Homo sapiens: one gene and its partner. The protein of the gene in region 2 interacts with the protein of the main gene of each other region in a biochemical or structural test. Each region holds a gene or a part of one and is shown on either strand. Other genes may lie near its edges.

Region 1 (16,373 bases), on a different chromosome or scaffold from region 2:
GGAGTGCAATGATATGATCTCGGCTCACTGCAGCCTCCGCCTCCCTGGTTCAAGGGATCCTCCTACCTCAGCCTCCCAAGTAGCTGCGATTAAAGGTGTGCGCCACCACGCCTGGCTGATTTTTGTATTTTTAGTAGAGGCGGGGTTTCACCATGTTGGCTGGTCTCAAACTCCTGACCCCAGGTGATCCTTCTGCCTCAGCCTCCCAAAGTGAATGGGATTACAGGTATGAGCCACCATGCCCGGCCAGGACTATATTTATTTATTTTTTTTTTGAGATGGAGTCTCGCTCTGTTGCCCAGGCTGGAGTACAGTGGCGCATCTCCACTCACTGCAAGCTCCGCCTCCCGGGTTCAGGCCATTCTCCTGCGTCAGCCTCCCACATAGCTGGGACTACAGGCACCCGCCACCATGCCAGGCCAATTTTTTGTATTTTTTTTACTAGAGACGGGGTTTCATCATGTTAGCCAGGATGGTCTCAATCTCCTGACCTCGTGATCCGCCCGACTCAGCCTCCCAAAGTGCTGGGATTACAGGCGTGAGCCACCACACCTGGCCAAGACTATATTTTTATTGTACCTTTTTTCTTCTTTATATTTAGTTGCACAAATACTTACCATTATGTTGCACTTGCCTACAGCATTCAGTACAGTAACATCCTGTGCAGGTTCGTTGCCTAGGAGCGGCAGGCTATACTCTATAGCCTAGGTATATATACTCTATAGCCTAGGTATATACACTCTATAGCCTAGGTATATATACTCTATAGCCTAGGTATATATACCCTATAGCCTAGGTATATATACTCTATAGCCTAGGTATATATACTCTATAGCCTAGGTGTGTGTATATATATATATATATTACATAGGCTATACCATTTAGGTTTGTGTAAGTACACTCTTAAGATGTTTGCACAATGACAAAATTGCCTAACAATGGATTTTTCAGAACATATCCCTGCCAAGTGAGGCACAACTGTAGTTACCTAAATCATAGAGAAGGGGGTTCAGAAAAGGAACAGACTTTATCTGGTTGAGGAGGTCAAGAAAAGCTTTATAACTGTACATTTTGTTACTACCATCACCACTCCTGCTGCTCACTATTGAGCACCTATTGTGTGTCAGACTTTGGACTAAACGTCGTCTTTACCACAGCCATGCAAAATGAGGATATCCCATTTTAGGGATGAGGAGCCACTTGGAGCCTGTCCCAGGTCTCATGCTGTGATTGTGGGTTTAGGTTCCAGTTTCCCTGACTCTAAGGCTCTTGTTCTGTCCCCTTTACCATTCAACTCATCACTCCTGCGATTAAAACATGGAGAGGTGAGCATTAAAGGACGAATTGTACTTTTGACAAGCAGAGATAGGACAGGAGGCTACTCTTGGCAGAAAGCATGGGAATAATGTGAACAAAAGTGAGTTCAGACAACTGGGGGCATATTTAGGACTAGAGGTAGTTCATTTTAACCCGATAGAACAGTCATGGAAAACAGAGGTATTTTGGGACTGTGTTGTGTATAGATCCTTGAATTAAGACTAAATATGGAAAATGATAGATATTTAAAAAGTTCAGTACCATTTTCAAGATGTTTTTTAATGTTTAATTAAATTGAACCAAAAATCAGGAACCTAAATTTGTTTCTCCTTTATGAGAATAGATCTTTATCATTGCTCTAATTTAGAACATTGAGAAACTTTTGCAGTACCTTTCTTGAATTTGAGTCTTCTTCGTTGAGCGGCATTTACTTGAAAAATAAAGTTCTGGCTGGGTACAGTGGCTCATGCACGTAATCAGATAGATGGATTGCTTGAGCCCAGGAGTTGACCTGTCTGGGTAAGATGGTGAGACCTTGTCTCTACAAAAAATTGAAAAAAAATTAGCCAGGTGTGGTGACATGCGCCTGTAATCCCAGCTGCTCAGGAGGATGAGATAGAGGGATCCCTTGATGCCAGGAATTTGAGGCTGCAGTGAAATATAATCATGCCACTGCACTCCAGTCTGGGTGAAAAAGTGAGACCCCATCTCTGAGAAATAATAAGATAAATAAATAAAGTTCCTTTTAAGAGATACAGTTGATAATTTTTAGAGGGATATATGAATGACCAAGTTAAAATGTTTGATTCTCTCATTTTTCTGTTCAGCATAATTTTATAAGACTAAAATTCATTAATGACAGTCTAGTTCTTCTGATGGAAATTGTTTTTTAAAAAAATTATGGAGGATCATGAAAAAGGTATGTCTTTGAAGATCTTTCTGATTTTTGCTTAAAAAAATTATTTATATTTTTTAGAGCAAAAACCCCAGCAATCTTAAATGCTTTTGTTAATTTTGCACAGAAACTTGTGCATCTTTGGTGTGGAATGAGCAGTAGGTTTTAGTGTTTGTTTCAAGTTTTCATGATTTCTGAATCAAAACCCAAAAGCTGTAGAAAGCTATACACAAAGATGTCTTGTTCAGTGTCCTCCTCTATCTTGAACTCCTTACTTGCTGTAGGAGCTGTTAGTTTCTTTTCATTTTTCTGTTTTGCAAATATTTCTATTCATTTTTATTCCTCCTCCCCACCATACAAAATTTTTCTTACACAAAATACTATGTACATTCTTCTGTACTTTGTCTTTTTCTTTTTCTTTTCTTTTCTTTTCTTTCTTTCTTTCTTTGTTTCTTTCTTTTTTTTTTGTTGCCCAGGCTGGAGTGCAATGGCATGATCTCGGCTCACTGCAACCTCTGCCTCCCAGGTTCAGGTGATTCTCCTGCCTCTGCCTCAGCCTCCCGAGTAGCTGGGATTACAGGCGCCCGCCACCATGCCTGGCTAATTTTTGTGTGTTTAGTAGAGACGGGGTTTTACCATGTGGGCCAGGCTGGTCTTGAACTCCTGACCTCAGGTGATCCACCTGCCTCGGCCTCCCAAAGTGCGGGGATTACAGGCATGAGCCACTGTGCCCAGCCCCCTGTCTTTTTCATTAATACGCTCTATAGCTTTCTCCAAACCATTTCATGTAGATCCTTCTCATTCTTTTTTGTGGCTGCATAGAATTCCATTATATGGATGTATAAAACACTGGAGTTATTTCTAATCTTTTGCTGTTATAAGCAGTGTCACAGTGAATACACCTTGTGCATATGACCTTGCATGCTAGTCTAGGTATTGCTCTCTCAGAAGACAAATGCATTTGTAATTTTGTTAGATGCTACCAAATTTTCCATAGGAGAATTGCACTCCCACCAGCAGTATATAGGAATGTTTATTTTCCCTTAGCTTTACTAATGGTGTCAAACTTTAGGAGTTTTACCAATCTTGATAAGCAATAAATAACATCCTAGTGTAGTGTTGGGTTTTTGTGGGGGTTTTTTGTTTTTTGAGACAGGGTCTTGCTGGGTTGTCCAGGCTGGAGGTAATCATAGCTCACTGCAACCTTGAATTCATGGCCTCAAGTGATCCTCCCATCTCCGCCTCCTGAGTAGCTAGGACTACAGATGCACAAGCTAATTGTTTTATTTTTATTTTTATTTTTTTGTAGAGACAAGGTCTCACTATGTTGACCAGGCTGGTTTTGAACTCCTGGCCTCGAGCAATCCTCCCACCTCAGCCTCCCAAAGTGCTGGGATTACAGACATGAGCCACCACGCCTGACCATCCTAGTGTAGTATTAATTCGCATTTCTCTTTTTATAAATAAAGTTGGGCATTTTTTCTTTTCTTTTCTTTTTTTTTTTTTTTTTTTTTTTTGAGATGGAGTCTTGGTCTGTCATCAGGCTGGAGTGCAGTGGTGCATTCTCGGCTCACTGCAACCTCTGCCTCCCAGGTTCAAGCAATTCCCCTGCCTCAGCCTCCTGAGTATACTGCTCGGACTACAGGCGGGCGCAACTATGCCCAGCCAAAATTTTTTTTTTTTTTTTTTGTATTTTAGTAGAGACAGGGTTTCACCATGTTGAGCAGGATGGTCTCAATGTCCTGACCTCGTGATCCGGAAGTTGGGCGTTTTTTCATTTGTTTGTGGGTCATTTATACTTCTTCTGTGAACTCCATGGTCTTTGCCCATTTTGAAATTGGGTTGTCATTCCCTGTTGACATTAGGAGCTCCTTGTATATTAGGAATAGCCTGTGATAAGAGTTATACATATATTTTTCTGAGTTTGTCTTTTTACTTGGTGTTTTTTTCCTATAGAATTTTAAAGTTTTGTCTGGGTGCAGTGGCTGACGCCTATAATCCCAGCACTTTGGGAGGCTGAGGCGGGCAGATTGCTTGAGGTCAGGAGTTTAAGACCATCCTTGCCAATATGGCCAAACCCCATCTCTACTAAAATACAAAAATTAGCCAGGCATGGTGGTGCACACCTGTAGTGCCAGCTACTCAGGAGGCTGAGGCACGAGAATCACTTGGACCGAGGAGGCAGAGCTTGCAGTGAGGAGAGATTGAGCCACTGCACTCCAGCCTGGGCAACAGAGTAAGACCCTGTCTCAAAAAAAAAAGAATTTTAAAGTTTTTATGTAGTTGAATTCATTGATTTTTCTGGATTTTGATATATAGTCAAAAAGGTCTTCCTAGAACAGGGAGTTCTTAACCTGTGATTTTCAGAGCTTTAGATGTTACACAAATTTGAGTACCCCTTCTCTGAAATGCCTGGGACTAGAAGTGTCTTGGATTTCAGATTTATTTGGATTTTGGAATATTTGTGTTATTCTTACAGGTGGAGCATCCCAAATCTGAAAATCCGCAATGCTCCAATGAGCATTTCCTTTTGAGTGTCATGTCATTGCTCAAGAGTTTCTGATTTTGGAGCATTTTGGATTTTCAGAGTTGGGATGCTCAACTCATATGCAATATTTTGTGAATGAGTGCTTATATAATTTTTATAGAATGAGGTGGGTTTTTTGTTGTTGTTGTTTTGTTTTTGTGAGACAGTGTCTCATTCTGTCCCCCAGGCTGGAGTGCAGTGGCACAATCACAGCTCACTGCAGCGTCAACCTCCCCAGGCTCAGAGGATCCTCCCACCTCAGCCTCCTGAGTGTAGCTGGGATTACAGGCATGCACCACCACACCTGGCTAATTTTTGTATTTTTTTGTAGAGACAGGGTTTCGCCATGTTGCCCAGGTTGGTCTCCAACCCCTGGGCTCAAGTGACCCTCCCACCTTTGCCTCCCAAAGTGTTGGGATTACAGGTGTGAGCCACTGCACCCGGCCTAGAATGAGTTTTATCAGTTCTGAAGGAAGCCTGTGATACAGAAAAGGTTAGACACCAGATAGAATAAGAAAATTTATATTTTCCAAAGTGTCATACAGACTCTAAAACTAATTTGAATATTTTATGTTCCAGACCCTCCTGCATGAAATGATACATGCCTATTTATTTGTCACTAATAACGACAAAGACCGAGAAGGGCATGGTCCAGAATTTTGTAAACATATGCATCGCATCAACAGCCTGACTGGAGCCAATATAACGGTATAGAAAGCCATATCTATTTATGATGTTTAGTAGTTGTTTATTCAATAACTCCTGAGATTTAATTAAAAGTAGAGAACTAGGTAGAAACAAGTATCTTTGAGGATTTTCCACAGCGAACGAGAGGCCTAGAGAAGCAAATTGGCTTGTCTGGGACTACATGGTGGAATGGCAGCAGAGCCAGTGATATCCCTGAGGCCTCTGACCTCTTCTGAGTCAACATTTTACACACAGGTAATTCAGGCCTGCAGTACGTCACTTCTGGAATCATCATGATCTCTTAACTTTGTTTCCTTATTATTGTCTTTTTTAGTCCATCCTGTATCCTGCTACCATTGCAGATGTCATTCCCTCATCAGAATTCTTCTTTGATTCATATCTCTGTATAGCATTGTAGGAGATAGCAAAGCCTCAGGTTCAAAAAGCTGGAGGCGTCAGGCTGCTTGGATTCAAATCCTGGCTCCACCAATTATTAACTTTCCTATGCCTCATTTTATACCCATGGCAAATGAGAGTAGTAACAATACCTATCTGTTGGATCCTTGTGAGGAGAAAGGATTAAAGGAGAAAGCACATCAAAACATTTTAGCCCAATCTGACACTAATTAAATATTAGTTTTATTGTATTCATTTTATTAAATAACCTTGTTCCTTTTTTACTGCCTCCAACTCTGCTGCCTGTGTCCTGTCTCTTTAACTGCACTTTTGACCTCCCTGCCTTTCCTCAGGTGTAGCTTCCCTGAGGCGTGCCACTGCTCTGTTTTGTGTCCGAATGCTTTTCATCGTTCCAGTGGCATCTCATTTCTCCCTCTTTTGAATCCTCAGCAGATATTTAAGCTATTACAATTTTTTATGCTACTTTCATACTTTTGAACGCAGGGTAGGTCTTGCCCATCTTTATAGTACATCTGTATAAGGTGTATAATGTACTGAATTGAATATTAATAGGATAGATTAAATTCTTTCTTATGTTTGGGTATTTCCTTCCTTTAAAAGGCAACAAAATCCACTGTGATAGAAAATGAACAGTGCTCAACCGCCATGTTTTGTTTATTTATTTATTTAAGATAGGGTCTTGCTCTGTTGCCCAGGCTGGATGCAGTGGTGCATTCATAGCCCACTGCAGATTCAACCTCCTGGGCTTAAGTGATCCTCCCACCTCAGCCTCCTGAGTAGCTGGGGCTACAGATGTGTGCCACCATGTCAAGCTAATTTAAAAAAAAATTTTTTTTTTTAGAGACAGGGTCTCACCATGTTGCCCAGGCTGGTCTTGAACTCATGGGTTCAAGTGATCCTCCCATCTCAGCCTCCCAAAGTGGTGGGATTATAGACATGAGCTACCATGCCTGGCCTCTCCATGTATTACTATTTTCTAGCTATCAGTTTTAATTTTCTAAAGACTTCATTTCATTATTAGACACAGTTACTTCAACATTAGGAAAGTGTCTTGCAGTTTTTAAAAAAATCAGACATAAAATCCGGGTTAGCAAGAGAATTATAGACTTGCTTGTATAAAATACATTAAGTTTCTTAACCAGAACTTATACTTTAAGCAAAGCCCTTGTATACGTCCCATTGTTCAGCTGGAAGAGTATCTGTTCTTTTATCTTAGATATCTGTGTGTTTTTATTTAGGAGAGGTTGTAAGGAGTGAACACTCCTTGCTTTTACAGGTTACATCCTGTTATAAGGAACTCTGCAGGGTATCTACATTGTAGAGTAATTTTATTTTAGTGACTACATTGTTAAAAGTCACATTCCCAAGCGTTAGGAGTTACAGGAATTGGAAGCAGAACAGATCCAGGCTGGGTGTGGTGGCTCACGCCTGTAATCCCAGCACTTTGGGAGGCCGAAGTGGGAGGGTAACTTGAGCCCAGGTGTTTGAGATCAGCCTGGGCAATTTAGTGAGACCTTGTTTCCACAAAAAAAATTCAAAAATTAGCTAATCGTGGTAGCTCACGCCTGTATTCGCGGCTACTCGAGAGGCAGAGGTGGAAGGATCACTTGAGCCTGGGAGGCGGAGGTTGCAGTGAGCCAGGTTCATGCCACCTCACTCCAGCCTGGGCAAACAGAGCAAGTCCATGTCACAGAACAAACAAACAAAACAGATCCATTTGTCTCTCTTTTTGGGTAATGAATTAAGAGTTCTGAACATAATAGAGTGCGTGGTTTCCCGTGCTTCTTTGCCTTAAAACCTATGTCCTTCAGTCCCTTCTGCATTTAATATAATGTGCATTCTTTGCATGCTTACCAAGTAGAAATTTTTTGCTTAGGATGGAGCGATAGTGAGTTTAAAACTATCTATAGAGTTATAGAAAGCTTAGCATTCTTTCCCACAAGGGGAATTTATTAGAAAGCTAAATGTCTTTGGTAAAACACCAAAATCTTACATACAGATGCTTCTCACTCTTACACAGAGAGTTCCACTGAGAAGGCAGAAGAATAAGGTGCCCATAGTCATTTAGGAGTCATTTCAAATGGTGCTCTATAGTCTTCAGTGCCACCATGCTGGGAGGGCTGACCCTCTTTTCAGTCAGGTCTTTTCCCTTACCTGTTTTCTGCTTGGGTTCCAAATAGGATTTTTGTCTAGAGGGTGAAAAAGAAGGCATCCTACTTAAGGCCTGAAAAGCACACTTCAGAGAATTTTATTTGACTCAATGAATGATGCTTTTCTGACTGAGCACCTTCTTGGTGCCAAAAGCACTATATTAGCCACTAGGGACACAAAAAATTAAAACATTCAGATCCTGGAGAACTTTTCAGTCTGGTAATAGAAATATTTATAAACAGATAAAATGGTACCTCATAAGGCTTATTACAGAGACATAAGCACAGAACTTGGAGAATGTGGAGAGTGAGCTTAGCAGAAGCTTCACTGGGTAAGATACTTGTGTTGTTAGCGTCAGTCAGGCATTTATAGGGAGTAATGTAGTCCTTTAGAACCCTTTGCTATTTTTACTTATAGGGAAAACTTCAATTTAGCAGTGGGAATGATTCTTATTTTAGTATGGTATTACATAAAATCTTATCTTTATCCTAATTTTTGATCATTTACAAATTTGATTTCTGAAACTTTTAGTGTTCATGAAGATTTTCTGTGGTTTTGTTTTTAAAAGATTTTTTTGTCCTCTAATCCCATGTGCATCTATCTTTACACAGTTTATGAAGTATTAACTGCTGCTGTTTCCCATTAAAATCAACTTTTGAACAGAAACTAAATATAGTTGCTTTCTCTCCTAAAATAGAACTTTTCAGAAAGCTCTGGGAAAGTTTCAAAAATTAAAAAAAAAAAAAAAAAAAAAAAAGACTGCTTATGTAAATTGTTTTCTTGCAGTTGTTAACTTGCTTATTGAATACTAAAAATTCTGTCTCCACTCAGGTATACCATACTTTTCACGATGAGGTGGATGAGTATCGGCGACACTGGTGGCGCTGCAATGGGCCGTGCCAGCACAGGCCACCGTATTACGGCTATGTCAAACGAGCTACTAACAGGGAACCCTCTGCTCATGACTATTGGTGGGCTGAGCACCAGAAAACCTGTGGAGGCACTTACATAAAAATCAAGGAACCAGAGAATTACTCAAAAAAAGGCAAAGGAAAGGCAAAACTAGGAAAGGAACCAGTATTGGCCGCAGAGAATAAAGGTACCTTCGTGTATATTCTTCTGATTTTTATGTGACCATAGCTATGATGTAAAGACAATACTGTCCTTCAGAGAACTGGTATTAAGATAAACTTAAGGATCGTTTCTGGTGTAGAAGTCTTCAAGTGTAGACTTAAGGAAAAAATCCCACTGTCCATGAAATGATGGTAGGAAAACAGACTTTGCTCTGTACAGAAGTAAGTAAAAGTAGGAATAGTTTCCATGGATATTTTTATTTTTATTAACTTTTTTCAGTTTCTTTTTATTCAAAGAAACAAAATTCAATCTCTGATAATATTTGAGGTAAAGTTCCTTTCCCTATCTTGACTCACTGAGTTATTAGGAAACAGAAGGCAAAAAGATTGTCAAAATAAAAACAATAATTCAAGTAACAATGCCCGGAATATACGTCCTAACTACACCCCTTCCTATCAGCTGGATTCTATCCAAGTGACTCTATTGATGTATGTATGTTCATTCAAAGAATGGGAAAAGGATATGACATATATTTGCCAGTACTTCATCTTCAAGATTTACCCTTTTCCTGTGAAGTTCAGAGTTACTGAAGATGCTTCTTCCCTTGGGAAGTTGTTGACCCAAGAACATAGGTTATATTTCCCAAATCTTTAATTATTGAGTGAAAGAGCTATAGATGAATTGATATGGAAAGACCGTATCTTCATTTTCGTGAGTAGAAGGAAAGATAAGAATGAGGCAGCAGATTTTCCCTCCTGGAATTACACATAAAGGACACTAAGCAATTTTCAAGGTAAATGTTGCCTTGTTGTTGGTCTTTGGCATGATAAGATTCTTTATTTAAATATGAGAGAATTTTTTTTTATCCTTTATATTCTCTCAATATCAGAACTCCTGAATTCTGAAGATTGCCCTCCTCCCATTAATAGGATTGTATGGATGTAAGATGGAATAAAATACTAGTTCTTCATTTTGAGAAAACTGTACATTAGTTTAATGTTTGTTACTGTATTTCTTTTGAGTTGAGGCACTTACATAACAATCTTCTTTGCTTTTTTGGCAGATAAACCCAACAGAGGTGAGGCCCAGCTAGTAATCCCTTTTAGTGGGAAAGGATATGTTCTAGGAGAAACAAGCAATTTACCTTCACCTGGGAAACTGATCACTTCACATGCCATTAATAAAACCCAAGATCTTTTAAATCAAAACCATTCAGCAAATGCTGTAAGACCTAATTCTAAAATCAAGGTGAAATTTGAACAGAATGGTTCAAGTAAAAATTCTCATCTGGTCTCCCCTGCTGTTAGTAACAGTCACCAAAATGTTCTAAGCAACTACTTTCCTAGAGTATCATTTGCCAACCAAAAGGCTTTCAGAGGTGTGAATGGATCTCCAAGGATAAGTGTAACAGTTGGCAACATCCCTAAAAACTCAGTCTCTTCTAGTTCTCAGAGAAGGGTTTCATCTTCTAAGATATCCCTAAGAAATTCTTCAAAAGTAACGGAATCAGCATCTGTGATGCCATCCCAGGATGTGAGTGGGTCTGAAGATACATTCCCAAATAAACGACCTAGGCTAGAAGATAAGACTGTTTTTGACAATTTTTTTATCAAGAAAGAGCAAATAAAAAGCAGTGGTAATGATCCAAAGTATAGTACAACCACAGCTCAGAATTCCAGCAGTTCATCCAGTCAGAGCAAAATGGTTAATTGCCCAGTTTGTCAGAATGAAGTTCTGGAGTCTCAGATTAATGAGCACTTGGACTGGTGCCTTGAAGGTGACAGCATCAAAGTCAAAAGCGAAGAAAGTCTTTGAAAAAGGTTTCAAAGTCTCAAGTACCACCTGTATTATCTCACTAATGTGCTATGTCAGCCAGTCAGGAAGTTCTGGTTAATACTAAGATTTGTAGGTTATAATCTAGTTCACATAACCAATAGAAAGTGTCCTATTTTATATATACGCATATAAGATTGTAATTTTAAGATGTTTTGTGTCTCAGGGTGCTACATTCACTCTTGCCTTAGGTATACTGTAACCCAGGTTCTGCCTGTCGTGTATAAGTTTTAGATACTTTTGTTCTTTCTTGCTCTTAAGGATTTTAAAAACCTGTTAATCTTTTTATTTGTATACTTTCCTAAAAATATTCATATGGGGAATCCTGTCAGGTGTTTGGTTATATTGACTATTTATTAATAGTATTAGAACTCATTCCCTGAACTGATGTAAATCTTCATAGTGTCAGACATACTGACCAAAACCACAATCTAGACTACAAAGTATATTGTTTTAGAGTACTCAAATTGTATTATTTATTAATTTTTTTGTTTGCAAAATCTTAACAGGAACTGTATTTTCTATATTTTAAAGAATTTTATTTGTCCCACTTTTACTAAACAGTGGCAGCAGATTTTAAGTTAAAGAATATGGAATATAGTAAAATAAGTAAATTTCTTTTGGAATATTTTTAGTAACAAATAGCCACTATAATTCTGTAGGCCAAATTTTATATTGAGTTTAGCTGTTTTCTCAAAATTTAGCAGAGTGGTTAAAATTCTGTGCTGATAAGTAACTGATACATATAACATAAACATAACAAAGTTGCCTAGTTGATGTAACAGTGGAAAGTTATCTGGAAATAGTATTTTGAACTTTAAGCCAAGTTTAAAACATTATAATAAAAGGAATACCATTTGTGCATTTTAAGTAATCTTTTTTAAAAAAAATATTTTCCATGTTATAGGGAAAGGACAAAGAGACTTTTATCAGTTTGCTTTTTGTCTTGTGGCTGTACATGCTGTTGGCATAGCCCTAACACAGTTGTTCACAAGTTTTCTTTTTTCTTGTTGCAATTTTCCTTCACTTTGTTGTAATACAGGTGCACAAATCTTAAGTGCACAGCTGGGTAAACTTTTACAGTGTTCACCTGTGTAACTACCACCCGGATCAAGTTAGAGAACACTTCCATTGCCACAGAAGGCTTCCTATAGGTGTCTGTTCCCAGTTGATACCCATGACCCTCACCACCTCCAGAGGTCCCCACTGTTTTCACCCCATCGTCGCAGATTATTTTTTAATTTTATAATGTAGTATCTTTGTTCCTATGTATAGCAGGAGTTCATTTTCATTGCTCTTGCATTTGTATGAATATACTAGAATTTATTCATCCATTCTAATGTTAATGGACATTTGAATTATTTCCAGTTTGGGGCTGTTAAGCATAATGCTGCTAAGAACATTCTTATCTTTTCTGTTGGGTATATATACAGGAATGGAATTGCTGAGTCACGGGGTATATTTCTGTTTAGCTTTAGTAAATTCTGCCAGTTTACACTCCTACCAGCAATGTATGAGAGTTTTAGTTGTTCACCATTCATAACACTGTTAGCAGCCCTTTTCGTTTTAGACTGGTTGGCTGTTCACAAATTTTGATATTCCTTAAAGCATTAAAACATTTTAATAAATACTTATAAATAGGTATTAAAATGTATATTATGTTCAATATATAGTTATATTTTCATAGAGGATCATTTCTCTAAATGAATGTAACAAATTATGTGTAATTAAATGCTTCCTGAGCCAAAACCACACAAGGTTCTGGGGCTGTGAAGTAGCTGAGATGGTCCATGTCCTCAAGGAGCTTTACAGCATAGTTGGGGAGTAAGACAAATGCACATTAATCTCCTTAGAGTTTGCTAAGTGCTATGACAAGGGTTTTTGCTGGGTGCTGTGGGTAAACTGTAGGAAGAAAAATTAGCTCTGCCCAGGACTTCGGGGGATGTTTCTTGGAGGAGACAACATCCAAAGTTGAATCATGTAGAGTGAGTCGAGTTAGCCTGGTTAAAGAAGGGTGGGGAAGAACCTTTCAAAGGGAAGAAGGAACACAAAGTCATGTTCCGAGGGAACTGAATGCTATTCCAAGTGAATAGAGTAAAATGTGAGGGGCAAAATGGCCAAAGGAGAGATGGCAGATAGGACAGATCTAGCTAAGTAGTACAAGTTTGAGGCCAGGGATCTCATGTTCCTCACTTTATGTCTGGTTTGTGTGATACCTGCTAATAAGCATCTCTTAATTAAGGTGGGGCTTGGAAAGGCTTATAAGCCAGTCGAGGACATGTTGAGAAGTGTTTCCAATGGATTTTTCTGGGGACAGCATAGATAAGAGGGGGAAGGGTAGTGGCAGGGAGGGAGAGGAAGAGACAATTTTTTGAGAAACAGGTAGTAAAGTCAGGAGTTGGTTTCAGGTTCTAGGGAATGATGGAAATAGTTGAGAAAATGGAACTCAATTTGAAATAAGCCTTACTACATCTGTTAAACACTTGAGAAAATTTGCACCCTAAAAATTCTGATATTCCCCCAAATATGTCATTCATAATAGAGACATAGTTTTGTTTCTGTTTAGATTTTCCCTTTTAAAGCCAACTTCCCAACTTAGAAGCAGAGCTGGTAATTCTGGCTCAATCCTTAAATGCTATCCCCCTGCTGTGGGGACATGGGGTCTAGATTCTGTTTTTATAAAACGGTGGGTTTTGGGTTTTTGTTTTGTTTTTTGAGATGGAATCTTGCTCTGTGGCCCAGGCTGGAGTGCAGTGGCACAATCTCGGCTCACTGCAACCTCCGCCTCCGGGGTTCAAGCAATTCTCCTGCCTCAGCCTCCCAAGTAGCTGGGATTAAAGGCGAGCGCCACCACACCTGGCTAATTTTTGTATTTTTAGTAGAGATGGGGGTTTCACCTTGTTGGCCAGACTGGTCTCAAACTCCTAACCTCAAGTGATCTGTCTGCCCTCGGTCTCCCAAAGTGCTGGGATTACAGGCGTGAGCCACCATGCCCTGCGAAAACAGTGTTTATTTTAAGGTCAGTGTTATATGTTACCTAGCCTTAATTTTTACTTTAGAAAATTGTGCTGGGCAGCCGGGCGTGGTGGCTTACGCCTGTAATCCCAGCACTTTGGGAGGCCGAGGTGGGCGGATCACGAGGTCAAGAGATCGAGACCATCCTGGCCAACGTGGTGAAACCCCGTCTCTACTAAAAATACAAAAAATTAGCCGGGCGTGGTGGCAAGTGCCTGTAATTCCAGCTACTCGGGAGGCTGAGACAGAAGAATCGCTTGAAGCTGGGTAGCGGAGGTTGCAGTGAGCCGAGATTGTGCCATTGCACTCCAGCCTGGGCAAAAAGAGCGAAACTGTGCCAAAAAAAAAAAAAAATTGCACTGGGCATGGTGGCTCACGCCTGTAATCCCAGTACTTTGGGAGGCTGAGGTGGGTGGATTACGTGAGATCGGAAGTTTGAGACCAGCCTGGCCAACATGGTGAAACCCCGTCTTTACTAAAAATACAAAAATTAGCCAGGTGTGGTGGCATGCACCTGTAATCCCAGTTACTCAGGAGGCTGAGGCAGGAGAATCGTTTGAACCCAGGAGGCAGAGGTTGCAGTGAGCTGAGACTGCACCACTGCACTCCAACCTGAGTGACAGAGTGAGACTCTGTCTCAAACAACAACAACAACAACAACAAAAAGCTGGGCATGGAGGCTCACGCCTGTAATCCCAGCACTTTGGGAGGCCGAGGCGGGCAGATCACGAGATCAAGAGATCGAGACCATCCTGGCCCACATGGTGAAACCCCATCTCTACTAAAAATAAAAAAATTAGCTACTCAGGAGGCTGAGGCAGGAGAATTGCTTGAACCCAGGAGGCGGAGGTTGCAGTGAGCCGAGATTATGCCATTGCACTCCAGCCTGGCGACAGAGCTAGACTCCGTCTCAAAAAAAAAAAAAAAAAAGAAAATTTTGTTTTGCTTTTTGTAGACTATGGATATGCATATGCATATCCTAACTGGGAATTCTAAAGTGGAAAGGAAAATACTATGACAAAACTTCATACTGTCCCATTGTCTGATAGCTCTGAGATCATACTTTTAAAGCTTACAGGACTTTAAAATACGAACGTCAAAGTGAAACAACTGATGTACCTGCAAAACTAGCACCTAGCTGGACCCTTTCTGGGTGCGTGCAGTGTCAGCTCTTTTTATGTTGTGTTTTAAGTTTTTTATCCTGGTATTGCATTAATCGTGATCCAATGGTTTCCTTTTATTCTTCGTCTCAATTTTTTTTTTGTCCTTAAGGCTACTGTGGACTTTTTAGCAATTTGTTGTAGTTGTTGACTATCGGCATATTCACCAACAGAAGTGAAACTCTTCATATGACAATTATAAATTAAAGTGACTAAGGAGTTGAAATTAGAACAGAATGCAATGTGCAGATTAGCTCTGGCTTTTTCCTAGTATCCCATTAGAATGTTAGAAGTTATAATGATTACATATTTCATCATCACATATCTTTCGAAATGAAGAGTAGAATCTTAAATGACTCTGGACTGTAGTACAGAAGCAAGGTGCCATTTGTTTTCTTCAGTACTGGTGCTAAATTTACCAAGATTTACCATCTTGCTTAGTGAACACTAGGTGGTGCTCTTGGTAAGCCAAACTTCTGGCTGAGCCAAGCCAAGTGGATAAAAGAAACTTGCGACAACTGGAACACTAATTACCAGTTGATTCATAGATAGGAAAGAACAAGTTATGATCTCAAGTTCTGTGAGGGGACACGGCAGGCCAAGAATGTGTGCTTGTTCAAACAAGGACTGATCTACAGAACACTTTAGTCTCCCTAAACCTGTTTTCAAGCATTTCACCTTTCACTCTAAACATGTAACATAGTAGTCTCCTGCAAGAAAGAAACTGGTACCCAGACAGGGCAAAACAAGATCATGCTCAACCGGCTATCTATCTTCTAGACAAGGCAAGACCTGTACTTTTGTACTGTTTCTTATAGTACTCTAAACTATGTCTTTTTGCCTCTACCTGAGAGGTCTGAAAGAGCCAACAGGCAGCTTTTGGATTCTTGGTGTTAAGTGAATGTTAGGGCTGGGTATTCTCATGTTCCATGGTTATACACCTTTGCAAAAAAAAACACCTGAACACTGACTCTTCTCTATACTTCTGAAGAATCAAAGTTATAGGTATATTTTCAAGCTAGAATACTCTTGAGACCTAAATCATTTCCAGGTTGTAAGCATTCCTGGTAAACTAAATATATGATAACCTGGATTTGCATGAAAACTGGGAGGGTATTTTTTTTTTTAAACAAAAGATTTCTCATAGTACTCATATATGTATTTGTACGCCTTTAAAATAATTCAGTAGGTAAATATTGGCTGGGCACGGTGGCTCACACCTGTAATCCCAGGTCTTTGGAAGGCCGAGGCGGGTGGGTCCCTTGAGGCCAGGAGTTTGAGACCAGCCTGGGCAACA
Region 2 (16,985 bases):
AAGCGGGGATGACGAAGAAGACAGAGGAGGGTCAGCCTTCTACTTCTGACACCTATCTTAGGTTCTTTTTTGAGGCATGGAGGCTGAGGTGGTTCGGTCCTATGGTTCCCACTGCTGGTGGCACCTGACACCAACATCCCCAACAGTTTTGTCTGACCTCTCTTTTCGCTAGAAAATGCTTTGGCTGATTGATTATTCTGGCTTCTGGAGAACTGCTTTTGTTCTCAACATGAGGCACATATGGTAAGCCTCATCCTTAAGGAATAAGGAGTGAGTTGTTGTTTTTTTTTTTTTTTAAAGTGACATTTAAGATGTTGTAAGTAGGAATGGTGGTGCTAGTCCTTTCTGGAGATTGCCTTTTACATTTTATTTTTTTTGAAATGGAGTCTTACTCTGTTGCCCAGAGGGGAGTGCAATGGCAGGATTTAGGCTCACTGCAGCCTCCGCCTCCCGGGTTCAAGCGATTCTCCTGCCTCAGCTTCCCGAGTAGCTGGGATTATAGGCGCCTGCCACCACACCCAGCTAATTTTTGTATTTTTAGTAGAGACAGGGTTTCTCCATGTTGGTCAGGCTGGTCTCAAACTCCCGACCTCAGGCGATCCGCCCACCTCGGCCTCCCAAAGTGCTGGGATTATAGGCATGAGCCACCTCGCTCAGCCGCCTTTTACATTTTAAATAGGGAAACATTACAGAGAACTGGAATAAAAAGAGTTAATTTGACATTGCTAAATGCTCCATTTTTTTCAAAATGAAAATATGTTCATTCTTTTCTGATTATAAAAATGATACAGACTCTTGGCCAGGCGCGATGGCTCACGCCTATAATCCCAGCACTTTGGGAGGCTGAGGTGGGCGGATTGCCTGAGGTCGGGAGTTCGAGACCAGCCTGACCAACATGGAGAAACCCTGTCTCTACTAAAAATACAAAATTAGCTGGGTGTAGTGGCACATGCCTGTAATCCCAGCTACTCAGGAGGCTGAGGCAGGAGAATCACTTGAACCCGGGAGGCGGAGGTTGCGGTAAGCCGAGATCGTGCCATTGCATTCCAGCCTGGGCAACAAGAGTGAAACTCCATCTCAAAAAAATAAATAAATAAAAATGATATGGACTCTTGTTAAAATTTCCAAACACATATAAGAAAAAATAGATATAAAGAAGAGAACAAAAATCAGCCAAATGCTATCGTGTAAAGATAACCACGGTGTTGAGAACATGGGCTTTGGGCATACCTGGGCTGGAAACACATCTTTACCACTTACTACCTATGTGGTTTGGGATAAGTTACTTAATTTCTCTGAGCTCCAGTTTCTTCATCTGTACAATAGGGATAATAATTTAAGCTAAGTGACATCTATAAAATACAGATAATAGTAGGTAAGTAATAATACTTACTTTATTGGTCGTTCCAAAGATTAAATGAAAATATTCAAGTAAAAGGCCTAGCATCGTGCCTACATATGCAGTGAATGGTAATTCATAGTGAACACTCTGAGGTCTCCTTTTTTCTCAGTCCTATATTTTTCCCCTTAAATCTCACTGCTTTTAGTGTAATTACACGTAAGTCAGGACAGGCGCCGTGGCTCACGCCTGTAATCCCAGCACTTTGGAGGCCGAGGCAGATGGATCACCTGAGGTCAGGAGTTCAAGACCAGCCTGGACAACATGGTGAAACCCCATCTCTACTAAAAATATAAAAATTAGCCAGGCATGGTGGCAGGTGCCTGTAATCCCAGCTACTCAGGAGGCCGAGGCAGGAGGACTGCCTGAGCCCAGGAGGCGGAGGTTGCAGCTAGCCAAGATCATGCCACTGCACTCCAGCCTGGGCAAGAGAGTGAGACTCTGTCTCAAAACACCAACCAACCAAACAAACAAACAAAAAAACTAAATCAGTAAACATTTATTAAGAAGCTATTAGACACTGGTGGTGGTGTTGTCATTATTATTATTATATTAGGATGAGGCTAGTTGTAAAGTGCTACTTAGTTATTTGTTTAAGCAAACCTTGTCTTAGAACTTACATGGAATTGTTTTCTACTAACTCTTCCCATTAACAACATAAAATTGATCTCAAATTTGGGTCCTTTTTTGGTGAAGGGATAATTGAATCTAACAGGATTGGCTGAGGATTAAATAAGCCACTCTAGGCAAGGTACTCAAAACACGGTATGTGCTCAATAAATGATAGTTATTATCATCCAAGCAATGTATACAACCTAAAAGACTCTTCATCTGGGATTCATGGCAGTAAAAGTACAGAGGAGTTCTCTTTTCTGGTTTACTTTTGACCCTAAAATGAAGCCTTCAGGCATTATCTAGATAAAATACTAATCTCCTGGACACAGTCCTAGGTTTCTTCACTGGCATTTGCTAGCTGTAGTTCCCTTCTAAATCTAATCAAAGGTCTATACTCCCCTCAAACTTCCCTTACCTCCAACACCTGACTCAAAAACTTTCAAGATTAACTTTTATTTGCCTGGACTCTATGTTGTCATATGATGTGATACTCAACATATCCAATTTGTTACTTGGTTTCTACTGAAAGTAATTCTCACTTGACTGATGTGCACAGGAATCCCAAAATTCTGCAATAAAATGTGTTAGAGTTCACTGTACTTATTATTGGTTTTATATGTACAGTTGTAAACTAATAATGAGATGGCAAAACACAGTGTTTAAGATCATGGATGCTGTAGCCAGATTGCCTGGGTTATACTTCTAGCTGTGTTGCTTTGTGACCTTGGGCAAGTTATTTAACCTCTCTGTGACAGAGTTTACTTTTCTGAATAAAGGGAATAATAACATGCTTTACTTTCTAGGGTTGTTACAGAGATTAGATGGGTTAATATTTGTAAAGCACTTGGAATGGAGCCTGTCATGTAGTCAGTGGTATATAAGTGTTTGTTATATAATAATAGTTGCCATTTATGGAGCACTTAATTATCTCCAAGGCACAGAACATGTTACTTTCAACCCTCTCAATCATGCAAGGTAGATAAATTATTTACAGTGATGCACGAGAGCTGGTTGATGCACTTGCTTATGAGAGCTGAATGTTAAATTTTCAGAAAGTTTGCAAGTCAGTTAAACAGAGCCATTACTGAAAATTAAATTATATAAATGTACAATCAAATTATATTAAACACAAGACAATATTCAAATTTCATCACTTCCTAAGTGTTTTACTACTATCTATGCTCTTTTTCATTTGTGTTTTTCTTTTATAGAGAGACAGGTCTCACTATGTTTCCTAAGCTGGACTCGAACTCCTGGGATCAAGGGATGCTCCTGTCTTTGCCTCCCAAAGTACTGAGATTACAGATGTGAGTCACTGTGCCTGGCCTATCTATGCTCTTGAGGTTATTTATGTTTATTGTGTCTGTATGATGGAAATAATGGTGTGATACTGTGCATCTCTTCCTAACTCTGCATTCTATGGCATCAATATCTGTAGCTTGAATTCTGCTATGTGGAGTATTTATACCACAGAAGTGCAACCACTTCAAATCAGGGCTTTTTTTATTTAGCAAGTTGGTTATTACACATTTATCTGTACATCGCTGGATATTATTATCTCTCTTCTTTTAAGATGATAAAAGAAGTTAAATGATTTGCCTAAAGCCACACTGCTAGTAAGTGGTAAAGCTGGAATTCAGGCCCAGATGTTTGTTTGTTTGTTTGTTTGCTTTCTTGCTTCTCACAAGAAACATTGTTTCCAAAGCCCATATGCTTTTCATTCAATTACGCTCCAAATTGGAAAAGGAAAAATCAAACTGGATAGGCCTTAGACACAGAAACAGAAAAGCTATCTCTTCTCTTCCCCCTCCAGCTCTCCTGCCCTTAACCCAACCCCCAGCCTACCCAATCCTGTGCAGAGCTGTAGTCATTCCTTTCTAGTCCCATTATCCCAACCCAGACTTGGAGATACCTTTCATTATTTATCTTGATTTGATAATCCAATTACTGCCTTGCTTTGCACCACTTTTGCCCATTATCCCTTCTTCCCAGAATCTCCTTTCTATTGTCCAAGGTTAAGATTAAACCCATTCTTTCTAATACCTCTACCTATTTTCTATTTTCCTAGTTTGAAAAGACTTGACACTGTAGTTAAGATTCCTCAAATAATTTCCTTAAACTTTTGATTCACGCAAACATCCATATAGAAAACTATACATATCAAAAGTATATACCTCAAATCATTTTCACAAACTCAACACACCATGCAACCAGCACCAAGATCAAGAATATTACCTTCATCTCAAAAGCCTCCTCATACTCCCTTCCAGTTTCTACCCTCCCAAGGGTAACCACTAATCCAGCTAAGTCATTCAACCCTAATATTGGCAGGTCCATTGGGTTGGGCTGGGCACTCTAAACAGTGTGGTTGATATAGGAGTTAAGAAGAAATCACTTAGGCAGATAGTAAGGGTATAGAAGTCCATGGTAAGGCTTTTCTTTTTCATGAAAAGCAGCCCCAAATCATTTTCTAACAAAGACCAGCCTGTAAAGTTGAGCTTCAGACATAGACAAGCAAGCTGGGAGCTTGCACGGGTGAATGTGGGCAGGAACTAGGGACTAGACATGTTCAAGATGGCGACTCCATCATCCCTTCTCTGCCAGCCACATGTACAGTAAGGAGCAGACAAGATGGTGCCAGCCAAGGAGAGTTCATTTGCATCATAAGATCAGGGTGGGGATACCAGCCTTCACCCCTGGGCTATGTAAATGTCACACCTGATCGAAACAATCTGTGAGCCCTACATAAATCAGACACCGCCTCCTCAAGCTGGACTATAAAGTCCAGCGCATCTGCCACCATGATCACTAGGAGACCCCTCTCTCTATATATAAAGAGAACTGTTTCTCTTTCTCTTCTGCCTATTAAACCTCCGCTCCTAAACTCTTCGTGTGTGTTAGTGTCCTAAATTTTCCTGGTGCCAGACTACCAACCCCAGGGTATATAGCCCAGACAATGTAGCCACCTCATTGTCATCTGCTCCATTTGGCATAGGGATAAGTATCAAGACTCTTCCCTAGCTAATTATCTTGACTTACTTCCCACTCCTGTGGAGCACTGACAAGAGGCCTGAGTTCTGATCCCACAGCAACCACCTAATAATCCTGGAAAAATCTATTTCTCTCTGAGCCGCAACAATCCAGTCTCTAAAATATGGACAATGGCCAGGCACAGTGGGTCACACCTGTAATCCCAGCAGTTTGGGAGGCCGAAGTGGGCGGATCACTTGAGGTCAGAAATTTAAGACCAGCCTGACCAACAAGGCGAAACCCCCTCTCTACTAAAAATACAGTTGGGTGTGGTGGTGCATACCTGTGATCCCAGCTACTCAGGAGGTGGAGGCATGAGAATCGCATGAACCTGGGAGGCAGAGGTTGCAGTGAGTGGAGATCATGCCACTGCACTCCACCCTGGGCGACAGATCAAGACTCCATCTCAAAAAATAAAACAAAATAAATAAACAGGCTGGGCACGGTGGCTCACACCTATAATCCCAGCACTTTGGGAGGCTGAGGTGGGCGGATTGCCTGAGGTCGGGAGTTCGAGGCCAGCCTGACCAACATGGAGAAACCCTGTCTCTACTAAAAATACAAAATTAGCTGGGCATGGTGGTGCATGCCTGTAATCCCAGCTACTCGAGAAGCTGAGGCAGGAGAATCGCTTGAACCCGGGAGGCAGAGGTTGCAGTGAGCAGAGATTGCGCCATTGCACTCCAGCCTGGGCAACAGGAGCAAAACTCCGTCTCAAAATAAATAAATAAATAATAAAATAAAATATGGACAATATAATACATTTGCAGCATTGCTATGAGGACTAAATGAAATATTGCTCTTAAAGTACCTGGTATAGTAGGTCTGGTATATAATAACGTAATAGTCAACGATCATAGATTTTATTGTGTGCAGGTACTGCATGAGAGTTTTATGTATATTATCTCATTTGTAACTGGCCAAATAGAATTATTTGATTTTCTCATCTGCTTCCAGTCTTTCACGTCTCAGTCAAGGGCATCACCATTTACCTAAAGATTTATGTTCCATATCTAGGTATTTTCCTTGATTCCTGTTTTTTCCACACTCCACTCGTGTAATTCATCAGCAGGTTTTGCCGACTCTAAAACAAAACTCAAGTCACTCAGTTCTCTCAATTTCCACTACCACTACTCTATTTTAAAAAATGTATTGGTTTGGCGTTGTGGCTTACGCCTGTAATCCCAGCACTTTGGGAGGCCAAGGCAGGTGGATCACCTGAGGTCAGGAGTTCGAGACCAGCCTGGCCAACATGGCGAAACCCCCTCTCTACTAGAACTACAACAAAATTAGCCGGGTGTGGTGGCGCATGCCAGTAATCCCAGCAACTTGGGAGGCAGAGGCAGGAGAATCACTTGAACCCGGGAGGCAGAGGTTACAGTGAGCCGAGATCGCGCCATTGCACTCCAACCTGGGGAACAAGAGCAAAACTCTGTCTCAAAAAAAAAAAAAATTATTATTTTTTGAGACAGGGTCTCACTCTGTCACCCAGGCTGTATGCAGTGGCATGATCAAGTGCTCACTGCAACCTCTACCTCCTGGGCTCAATCCATCCTCCCACTTCAGAACTGGGACCACAGACCACAGACCACAGGCTCGTGCCACCATGGCTTTTTTTTTTTTTTTTTTTAGTAGGGACGGAGTTTCAGTATGTTGCTCAGGCTGGTCTCGAACTCCTGGGGCTCAAGTGATCCACTTGCCTTGGCCTCCCAAAGTGCTGGGATTATAGGTGTGAGCTACTGTGCCTGGCACTGCTACCCTATTTTATTTTATTTATTTATTTTGAGGGGGGTCTCACTCTGTTTCCCAGGCTGGAGTGCAGTGGCACCATCTCAGCTCACCGCAACCTCGGTCTCCCAGGTTCAAGTGATTCTGCTGCCTCAGCCTCCCGAGTAGCTGGGATTACAGGCGTGTACCACCACACCTGGTTAATTTTTGTATTTTTAGTAGAGACGGGGTTTCGCCATGTTTGCCAGGCTGGTCTCGAACTCCTGACCTCAGGTGATCTGCCTGCCTCGGCCTCCCAAAGTGTGGGATTACAGGTGTGAGCCACTGCGCCGAGCCATTTTATTTTATTTTTAGACGGAGTCTCTCTCTGTTTCCCAAGCTGAAGTGCAGTGGCATGATCTCGGCTCACTGCAACCTCCACCTCCTGGATTCAAGACATTCTCATGCCTCAGCCCTGGGAGTAACTGGGACTATAGGCACGTGCCACCACGCCCGGCTAATTTTTATATTTTTAGTAGAGACAGGGTTTCACCATGTGGGCCTGGCAGGCCTCGAACTCCTGACCTCAGGTGATTCATCCCCCTAGGCCTCCCAAAGTGCTGGGATTACAGGCGTTAGCCACCGCGCCCGGTCTGCTACCCTATTTTAAACCACCACTATCTTTCACTTAAAAATCTCAGAATGTAAGTTACATGTGAACAGGCTCGGTTTATTATTGCTCATAGCTGCAGCCCCAGCACCTCAACACTCAGAATAGTATCTGGCCTTTCTCAGGATTTTGCTATGCTTTGAATGAATGCATGTCGCGACAAGCCTTTGAAGTAGGTACTGTTATTATTCCCATTTTATAGATAAGGAAATAGGCTCCTAGTGGCTAAAGAATTACCTAAGTTTACACAACAAACAGCAAAACCAGGATTCAAACCCAGTAAGTCTGACTCTAGAGCCCACTCTCTTACGCACTACACCTGCGATACTGAACTGCACCGGCTTATGCTGAAGTCAATTATTAAAGATTTTTGCGGGGGTGATACTAGGAGAAATTTGAGTTGAAATTCCCCAACCTGATAACTTTTCTCCAAGTTTTCCTGAGAACACAGCTCAAGCGCCTCTTCACAGTCTCCTAGGCACAACGATTTGGTTTCTCCCAAGTCTCTCTCATCCGCCTCTTCTCCTAACAATCCAGAGATAATGAACTCTTTTCCAGCAAATTCTCCTGCTTCTATCCGAAACACTCAGCCTCTCCTCAACCCCTCTGGAAAAACCTTCCCTAATTTCTCAACTCTGAGGGATTATAACAGGCAGTACTTTTCCCCAGTTGGCAGCACTACTAAAATTACTTGTTTTCAATAGTCTCCCCTTTATCCTGGCTTTCCCGGGTTTCATCACGCGCAGCCAACCTCGGTAGGGAAATATTATACCCAATGACATCTGTTGAGAGACCATATTCACTAATGTTTATTACAGTATAATAATAATTGTTCTATTTTATCGTTAGTTATTTTTGTTAATCTCTTACTGTGCCTAATTTATAAATTAAACTTTATCATAGGTACGTAGGTATAGGAAAAAACCAGCCAGGAGGCCCCGCACTTCGGTGTTTTCTACTAGCTCTGCCTACCTCCGTCTGCGCCGTCTCCCTGACTAGTTTGACCCTTCGAGGGCCGCCGTAGTGCGTCGCCTCCGTTGCCGGGGAAACGACCCGGGACCTGGGAGGGAGCAAAGACGTTTCCCGCCGGCGGGAGCTGTGGCTGTGATTGAGAGAGGGGTTAGAGGCGGGTCCCAGCGCTGCCGCACCATGGCGGACCAGCTTTATCTGGAAAATATAGACGAGTTCGTCACGGACCAAAACAAGATCGTGAGCAGCTACTACTGGGGAACGCGGGCGTGCGACCGGGGTCCTGGGCCCGGCTAGGGCGGCGGGAGCCTTGACCCTCTGTCTGCTTGTGGCTTCGTGGGGACCAGGGGAGACAGGTCCCCACGAGGGGACCTGGGCGAGCTCTGTGCCCCAGAGCGAGCGAGGACTCGTCGGGAAGGTCCTCCAGCACACACGGAAGTCCGCGTCCCTTGGGTGGGCGTGCTGGGAACAGAGCCTGGGGCTGGAGCCGCGGAGACCGGGCGCGGAGGGAGGGCCGTTGGCTGAGAGTTCTAAGGCGTCCCTACACCTTTCTTTTAAGGTGGTTGGCGTTTAAAGTTTTAAGTTTACAGTTGAGGAAATCGTGTCTTAACTGTGTTAAGTTACAAGTTGCGTAACCTCCAGATACTGTTTCCTCTTCCTGGAAATTTAAGCATTGATAGAGGTTTGATCCGCTTCACACGGGTGAGGAAAAGATCGAGCGAATTGATGGATGTGAGTGCACTTTGCAAACCGTGATGATTGAGTGCCTGCTGTGTGCCAAGGCACTTTAATCTTTACAGTGACCTCCCCGCACCCCATCCCAGGTCGGTGGTGGTATCCCGAGATGAGGAAATTGAAGCTGAGGGGCCAAATAACTTGTTTATTTGCGTTTGGTAAGGGATAGGCAGTTTTTCAACCTAGGTCTGTCCTCTTACTAATGCTTTCTTCTACATCACACTGCCTTTGCCTAACCTGTGCAAGTCTTCTAACTATTGGAAGCTTGACATTTGGAATTGGAAGAGACTTTGAGAGAAGAGAGTGCAGGCATCCTGGGTCTAGGAGGGATGAAGGCTTGATGCTGGTAGTTCCCAATCTAATCTCTTATAAAAATATTTACCCACTTTTTTCGTTTCCTGACCCCTGCACCACCTGTGCCCTTTAATGTTTGCATGGGTGCAACTTTCTTTAGAAGTTTCTGAGACATCACACTTCAAAGTCATCTAGCTTCTGAATGAGTTTTAGGATGGCTTTGGCTGGTGGCCCCCAAAAAAAACATCATGAGGAAAGGGCCTGAGTAAAACAAGGAATGTGAGGAAAATGAGAGTTTTTTCTGTTAGGTATGTTCAGCTTGTCTTTTTAGATTACTTTTCATTAGTTCATGAAACAAACTTCTTAGCATTTTTAAGATAAATAGGTCCTGCCTACCCAGATAGATAGTTCTTGGGAAAACTGCAGTGGCATTTATTGTAATTTGTAAGGCATAATCATCTAAGAATAGGAATCTTTAGCAACAGACCTTCGGGACTGATGTGCACTCTGGAGTCATCTAATAAAACATTTGAAAAATTTTTTCTTGTTACAGGTGACATACAAATGGCTGAGCTATACACTAGGGGTTCATGTTAACCAGGCCAAACAGTAAGTCCAATTTACTACCAATTTTAATCATATTGGAATTTTTTTTTGTTTTGTTATGCTTTGCTTTTAACTCTACAGATAGCCTACATAGATTAGAGCTAATTTGGTTTGCTGGCAATCATTGGTATTTCTTGGCTTGTAGCTGCGTAATTCCAATCTCTGCCTTCATTGTCATGGCATTCTCCCTGTATATCTGTATCTTTGCACGTCCATCTTATATGAACACCAGTCATACTGAATTACGAATCCACCCTACTCCAATATGACCTTGTCTTAACTAATTACATGTGCTATAATTCTATTTCTAAATAAGGTCACATTTTAAGGTATTGGGGGTTAGGGCTTTAACATTACCTTTTTGGAGACATGATTCAGTCTGTAATATGGATACAACAAGTTTTGTTTATTCATCATTAATGGACATTTGGGTTATTTCCATATTTTGACTGCTATGAATGATGCTGTTATGAACATTCATGTATAAAACATTCATCTATAAGTGTTTATATGAACATATATTTTCAGTTATCTTGGGTATTTGTGTTAGTCCATTCTCATGCTGCTATGAAGACACACCTGAGATTGAATTTATAAAGACGAGGTTTAATTGACTCACAGTTCCGCATGGCTGGGGAGGCCTCAGGAGACTTGGCGGAAGGCATCTCTTCACAGGGTGGCAGGAGAGAGAATGAGTGTCGAGCGAAGGGGGAAGCCCCTTGTAAAACCGTCAGATTTCGTGAGAACTCACTATCATGAGAAGAGCATGGGGGAACTGCCCCCATAATTCAGTTATCTCCACCTGGTCCGTCTTTGACATGTGGGGATTATTACAATTCAAGTTGAGATTTGGGTGGGGACACAGCCAAACTAGGATTGGAATTGCTGGGTCATGAGATAATTCTGTATTTAACATTTTGAGGAACTGACAAACTATTTTTCAAAATGGCTGCGCTTCTTACAGTCCTAACAGTATATGAGTATTTCAGTTTCTCCACATTCTGGTTAACACTAACACTGTTTTTTCCCTCAGACTTCTCATGGATGAACTCTTTTTTTTTTTTTTTTTTTTTTTTGAGATGGGGTTTCACTATGTTGCCCAGGCTGGATTTGAACTCAAGGATCCTCCCGCCTCAGCCTACCAACTAGCTCTACAGGTGTACATCACCACACCTGGCAAAAACTTTTTATTATGTCTTATTTTAACCATCCTAGTGGATGTGAAGTGGTATCTCATAAATTATGTTGATTGGCATTTTCCTAATGACTAATGTTGCTGAATATCTTTTCATATGCTGCTTGGCCATATCTTTGGAGAAATAGATATTCAAAATTATGCCCATTTTTGTCATTGGGTATTTTTGGTTGTTGTTGAGTTTTAAGAGTTCTTTATATATTCTGAATACAAGACCCTGATTGAAAAATTATTTGCAAAAATTTTCTCCCATTCTGTGGATTGTCTTTGTACTTTCTTGATGGTGTGCTTTGAAGCACAGACATTTTTTGTTGTTGTTGTTGTTTGAGACAGGATGTCACTCTGTTGCCCAAGCTGGAGTGCAGTGGTGTGATCTCAGCCCACTGCAGCCTTGACTTCCCTGGGCTCAGGTGATTTTCCCACCTCAGCCTCCCGAGTAGCCGGGACTACAGGTGCGTGCCACCACACTCAGCTAATTTTTAAATTTTTTGTAGAGATGGAGTCCCGCCATGTTTCCCATGCTGGTCCCAGGCTGGTCTTGAATTCCCAGGCTCAAGCCCCTGCCTTGGCCTCCCAAAGTGCTGGGATTACAGACATAAGCCACCATGCCTGGCCCATGGAAGTTTTTATTGCTGATGAAGTCCAATTTATTTATTTTTCCTTTTGTTGCTTATGCTTTTTTAAGTTTAAATTTTAAAATGATTAAATTTTTTTTAATCTTATTTTTTTTTTTTTTTTAGTAGAGATGAGATCTTGCTATGTTGCCCAGGCTGGTCTCAAACTCCTGACCTCAAGTGATCCTCCCACCTTGGCCTCCCAAAATGCTGGGATTACAGATACAAGCCACTGTGCCCGGCCTAAGAAGATTTTTTTTTTTCTTTTTTTTTTTTTTGAGGCAGAAGCCTTGCTCTGTCGCCCAGGCTGGAGTCCAACGGCGTGATCTCGGCTCACTGCAACCTCCGCCTCCCTGGTTCAAGCTATTCTACTGCCTCAACCTCCGAGGTAGCTGGGACTACAGGCATGTGCCACCATACCCGGCTAATTTTATTGTATTTTTAGTAGAGTTGGGGTTTCACCATGCTGGCCAGGCTGGTCTCGAACTCCTGACCTCAAGTGATCTGCCCGCCTCGGCCTTCTAAAGTGCTGGGATTACAGATGTGAGCCATCGTGCCAAGCCAAGATTTTTTAAATTGAGAAATAAAGTTGTATGTATTTATTGTGTACAACATTATGTTTTGAAGTATATATACACTGTGGAGTAGTTAAATCTAGCTAATAAATGTATTACATCACACAGTTATTTTGGTGGTGAAAACATTTAATGTCTACCATCTTTTCATTTTTCAAGAATATATCATCACTAACTGTAGTCACCATGCTATACAGTAGAGCTCTTGAACTTATTCCTGTCTAACTGTAATTATGTATCCTTTAGACCCACATCTCCCCATTCCCCCTCCCCTAACCACTTCAGCCTATGGAAAGAAAATTCTGCTTTCCACTTCCGTGAGATCACCTTTTACAGATTCCACAAATGAGTGAGATCATGTAGTATTTGTCTGTGTCTGGCTTATTTCAGTTAACATAGTCTCTTCCAGGTTCATCCATTTTGTTGCAAATGATAGGATTTTATTCATTTTTATGGCTGAATAGTATTCCATTGTGTATATACACTATATTTCCTTTATCCATTAATGGACATTTATTGATTCCATATCTTGGCTGTTGTAAATAGTGCTGCAATAAACATGTGAGTGCAAATATCTCTGACATACTGATTTCATTTCCTTTGGATGTATATCCGTAGTGGGACTGCTGGATCATACAGTAGCTCTATTTTTGATATTTTGAGGAACCTCCATACCGTTTTACATAATGGCTGTATTAATTTACATTCCCACCAACAATGTATAAGCATTCTGTTTTCTCCATACCCTTGTTGTGTTTTCTTTTTGATGTGTTGCTTGTGCTTCTGACATAATATCTAAGAAGGCTTTGCCTAACCCAGGGTTATGAAGATTTACTCCTGTGCTTTTTTCTAAGATTTTTTAGTTTTTGCACTTATATTTAATTCTGTAATCCACTTAGAGTTTAAAAAAATCATGGTTATCACTATGTTTAAGTTTTCTACAGATCGTGTGCTTGTTAGCATCATTATTATTATTGTTTTGAGACAGGGTTTCACCCTGTTGCCCAGATGGAAATGCAGTGGCGCAATTTTGGCTCACTGCAACTTCAGCCTCCCAGGCTCAAGTGATTCTCCCTCCTCAGCCTCCCGACTAGCTGGAACTACAGGCGCATGCCACCACACTTGGTTACTTTTTGTATTTTTTGTAGAGACGGGGTTTTGCTGTGTTGTGCAGGCTGGTCTCGAACTCCCAGGCTGAAGCCATCCTCCTGCCTTGTCCTCCAAAGTGCTGGGATTGCAGGCATAAGCCACTGCACCTGGCCATGTACTTGTTAACATTAGAAATGCTTCAGTCGGGTGGCTGTGGTGGCTCAGTTGTATTAGTCCCAACACTTGAGGAGGCTGAGGTAGGAGGATTGCTTGAGCCCAGGAGTTCAAGACAAGCCTGGGCAACATAGTGAGACCCACATCTTTATAAAAAGTTTTTTTAAAACATGAGCCTGGTGTGGTGGCATGCACCTGCAGTCTTAGCTACTCAGAAGGCTGAGGCAGGAGAATTGTCTGAGCCCGGGAGTTCAAGGCTGCAGTGAGCTATGATCACACCTGGGTGACAGAGCAAGAACCTATCTCTAAAAGAGAAAGAGAGGAGAGAGAAAAAAGGGAGGAAAGAAAGAAAAAGAAAAAAATGCTTTAGTTCCTACAGTAAGACTATACTAAAGCTTTCAGATTAGGTGTTAGTTCAAGCTAATTTTTAAATGAATCACTGAAATGTATAAATATTGACTATATCTTCTAGGAATCACTTGGAGTTGATTTTTTGTGTATGGTGTAAGGAAAGGGTCCAGCATCATTTTTTTGCACATGGGTATACGGTTATCCCAGCATTTTATAATTCATATTATTGTCTTGGCATTTTCTTGCTAATTATATGTCTTTCCCCACTAGAATATAAACTCTATGAAGGCAGGAAACTTGTCAGGTTCATCACTGTTCTGATTACTATTGCTGTGTCAGAAATCACCCCAAAATGTAGTGCCTGGAAACATCATTTTATTATGCGCATAGATTCTTTTGCTTTGGAATTTGGATAGGGCACAGTGGGAATGGCTTATGTCTGTTCCATGATGTCTGGCATCCCCGCTGGAAAGTCTCAATAACTGGAACCTGGTCATCTCTAGGCATCTTTATGCACATGTCTGGCTGTTGATTCTGGCCATCTGTTGGGCCTTTAGCTGGGGCAGTGGACTAGAGTGCTTGCATGTGGTCTATCTGTATGGCCTGGGCTTTCTCACAGCCTGGTGTCTCCAGGTAGTCGGACTTCTTACATAGAAGCTCAGGGCTCCAAAAGCTTGTGTTCCAGCACAATGTAGAGCCAATTGCCTTTTCTGACTAGCCTCAGAAGTCAAGCAGTGAATAACTGGTCATACCAGATTCAAGAAGTGGGCTCTACTTCTCAATGAGAGAATGTAGAAGAGCATATGGAATGGAAGATGCTGTCTCAGCCATCTTTGGAAAATATAACATGCCACAATTATTCTGTCTTCAGTGTCAGGCACATAATGAATGCCAATACATACTGAATGAATACCAAGCACTATGGTTTATGTTTGTTTTGAGATAGAGTCTCACTGTATCACCCAGGCTGGAGTGCAGTAGTTCAAACATGGCTTCCTTTAGCCATGACCTCCTAGGCTTAAGGGATACTCCCACCTCAGTCTCCTGAGAGTAGCTGGGACCACAGGTACATGCCACCATGCTAGCTGATTTTTTTATTTCGTAGAGTTGGGATCTTGCTGTGTTGACCAGGCTGGTCTTGAACGTCTGGACTCAAGCAGTCCTCCTGCCTCAGCCTCCCAAAGTGCTGAGATTATAGGCATGAGCCACCATGCTCGGCCTCACTATAGTATTTTCACAAACATTTCTCTCAAGTAATTTTTTTTTTTTTTTTTGACGGAGTCTCGCTCTGTTGCCTAGGCCGGAGTGCAGTGGCGGAACTCAGCTCACTGCAACCTCCACCTTCCAGGTTCAAACGATTCTCCTGCTTCAGCCTCCTGAATAGTGGGGATTACAGCACCTGCCACCACGCCTGGCTAATTTTTGTATTTTTAGTAGAGACAGGGTTTCACGATCTTGGCCAGGCTGGTCTTGAACCCCTGACCTCGCAATCTGCCCACCTCGGCCTCCCAAAGTGCTGGGAGTACAGGCTTGAGCCACCGTGCCTGGCCTCATACTGTTTTTTTTTAGCATTATTTCAGGCTATGTCATACAACAGTAAACCTGACAGACAGGGTCCCTCCCCTGGTTGATTTAAACAAGATAATTTCAGACTGTGAAAATGCTGTGAAATAATTAAGTTGGGTTAGAGAAAGCGGTATGGGCAATACACTGTACTCATCCTGGGGAACATTATGGGTGGAACTGATCAGGAGGGAAGATTAATGAATTAAAATGGGAAGCTATAATTAATCATGTGTAGGAAGTGTATCTTGTAAGAAGTCATATATGTTGTTATTATTATTATTTTTTTTTTTTTTGAGACAGCTCTGTTGCCCAGGCTGGAGTACAATGGTGCAATCTCGGCTCACTGCAACCTCCGCCTTTAGAATTCAAGCAATTCTCCTGCCTCAGCCTCCCGAGTAGCTGGGACTACAGGCACATGCCACCACGCCTGGCTAACTTCTTGTATGTTTAGTAGAGATGGGGTTTCACCATGCTGGCCAGCTGGTCTTGAACTCCTGACCTCGTGATCCGCCTGCCTCGGCCTCCTAACATGCTGGGATTACAGGCATGAGCCACTGTGCCCAGCCTGTTGTCATTCTTATTTAAGAATATTTTATATTTTGTTTATTAAAAAATATTTGGCTTAGGCTGGGCGCGGTGACTAATGCCTGTAATCCTAGCACTTTGGGAGGCCGAGGAGGGCAGATTGCCTGAGCTCAGGAGTTTGAGACCAGGCTCAAGCTATCCTCCTGCTTCTGCCTCCCTGAGAGCTGGGATTACAGGCGTGAGCCACCACACCTGGCGCTACTGAAATACAAAAATACTAAAATACAAAAAATTAGCCAGCGTGTGCCTGTAGTCCCAGCTACTTGGGAGGCTGAGGCAGGAAAATCACTTGAACCTAGGAGGCAGACATGGCAGTGAGCTGAGATCGCGCCACTGCACTCCAGCCTGGCGACAGAGCGATACTCTATCTCCAAAAAAACAGAAAAGTTTGGCTTAAATTAGATAAAACATGTTTTAAAGACTCAAAAAGTAGGCAGGAATTCTTTCCTTTTTTTTTTTTTTTTTTTTTTTTGAGATAGGATTTTGCTCTTGTTGTCCAGGCTGGAGTGTGATGGCACGATCCCAGCTCACTGCAACCTCTGTCTCCCAGGTTCAAGCGATTCTCCTGCTTCAGCCTCCCGAGTAACTGGGATTACGGGCATGCGCCACCATGTGCCCGGCTAATTTTGTATTTTTAATAGAGACGAGGTTTCTCTATGTTGGTTAGGCTGGTCTCAAACTCTCAACCTCAGGTGATCTGCCTGCCTTGGCCTCCCAAAGTGCTGGGATTACAGGTGTGAGCCACCGCACCCAGCCACAAGAATTGTTTTTTAAAATAAGAGTTTGCTTTGCATTTTCTGTTAATATAAGA

Evidence for each region.
Region 1: the proteins of POLD3 (region 2) and SPRTN form a complex in vitro, tested with the Homo sapiens proteins (one study listed by BioGRID).

The regions. Positions count from the first base shown.
Region 1 is NC_000001.11:231,342,479-231,358,851, forward strand, and holds the end of SPRTN (DNA-dependent metalloprotease SPRTN), read left to right. Parts: intron 1-5,318; coding exon 5,319-5,447; intron 5,448-8,825; coding exon 8,826-9,093; coding exon of another isoform or gene 9,094-9,128; exon of another isoform or gene 9,129-10,131; coding exon 10,132-10,883; 3' UTR 10,884-12,545; downstream 12,546-16,373. UniProt on the Homo sapiens protein: DNA-dependent metalloendopeptidase that mediates the proteolytic cleavage of covalent DNA-protein cross-links (DPCs) during DNA synthesis, thereby playing a key role in maintaining genomic integrity.
Region 2 is NC_000011.10:74,584,089-74,601,073, forward strand, and holds the start of POLD3 (DNA polymerase delta subunit 3), read left to right. Parts: upstream 1-8,493; 5' UTR 8,494-8,570; coding exon 8,571-8,630; exon of another isoform or gene 8,631-9,116; coding exon of another isoform or gene 9,117-9,122; intron 9,123-9,972; coding exon 9,973-10,028; intron 10,029-16,985. UniProt on the Homo sapiens protein: Accessory component of both the DNA polymerase delta complex and the DNA polymerase zeta complex.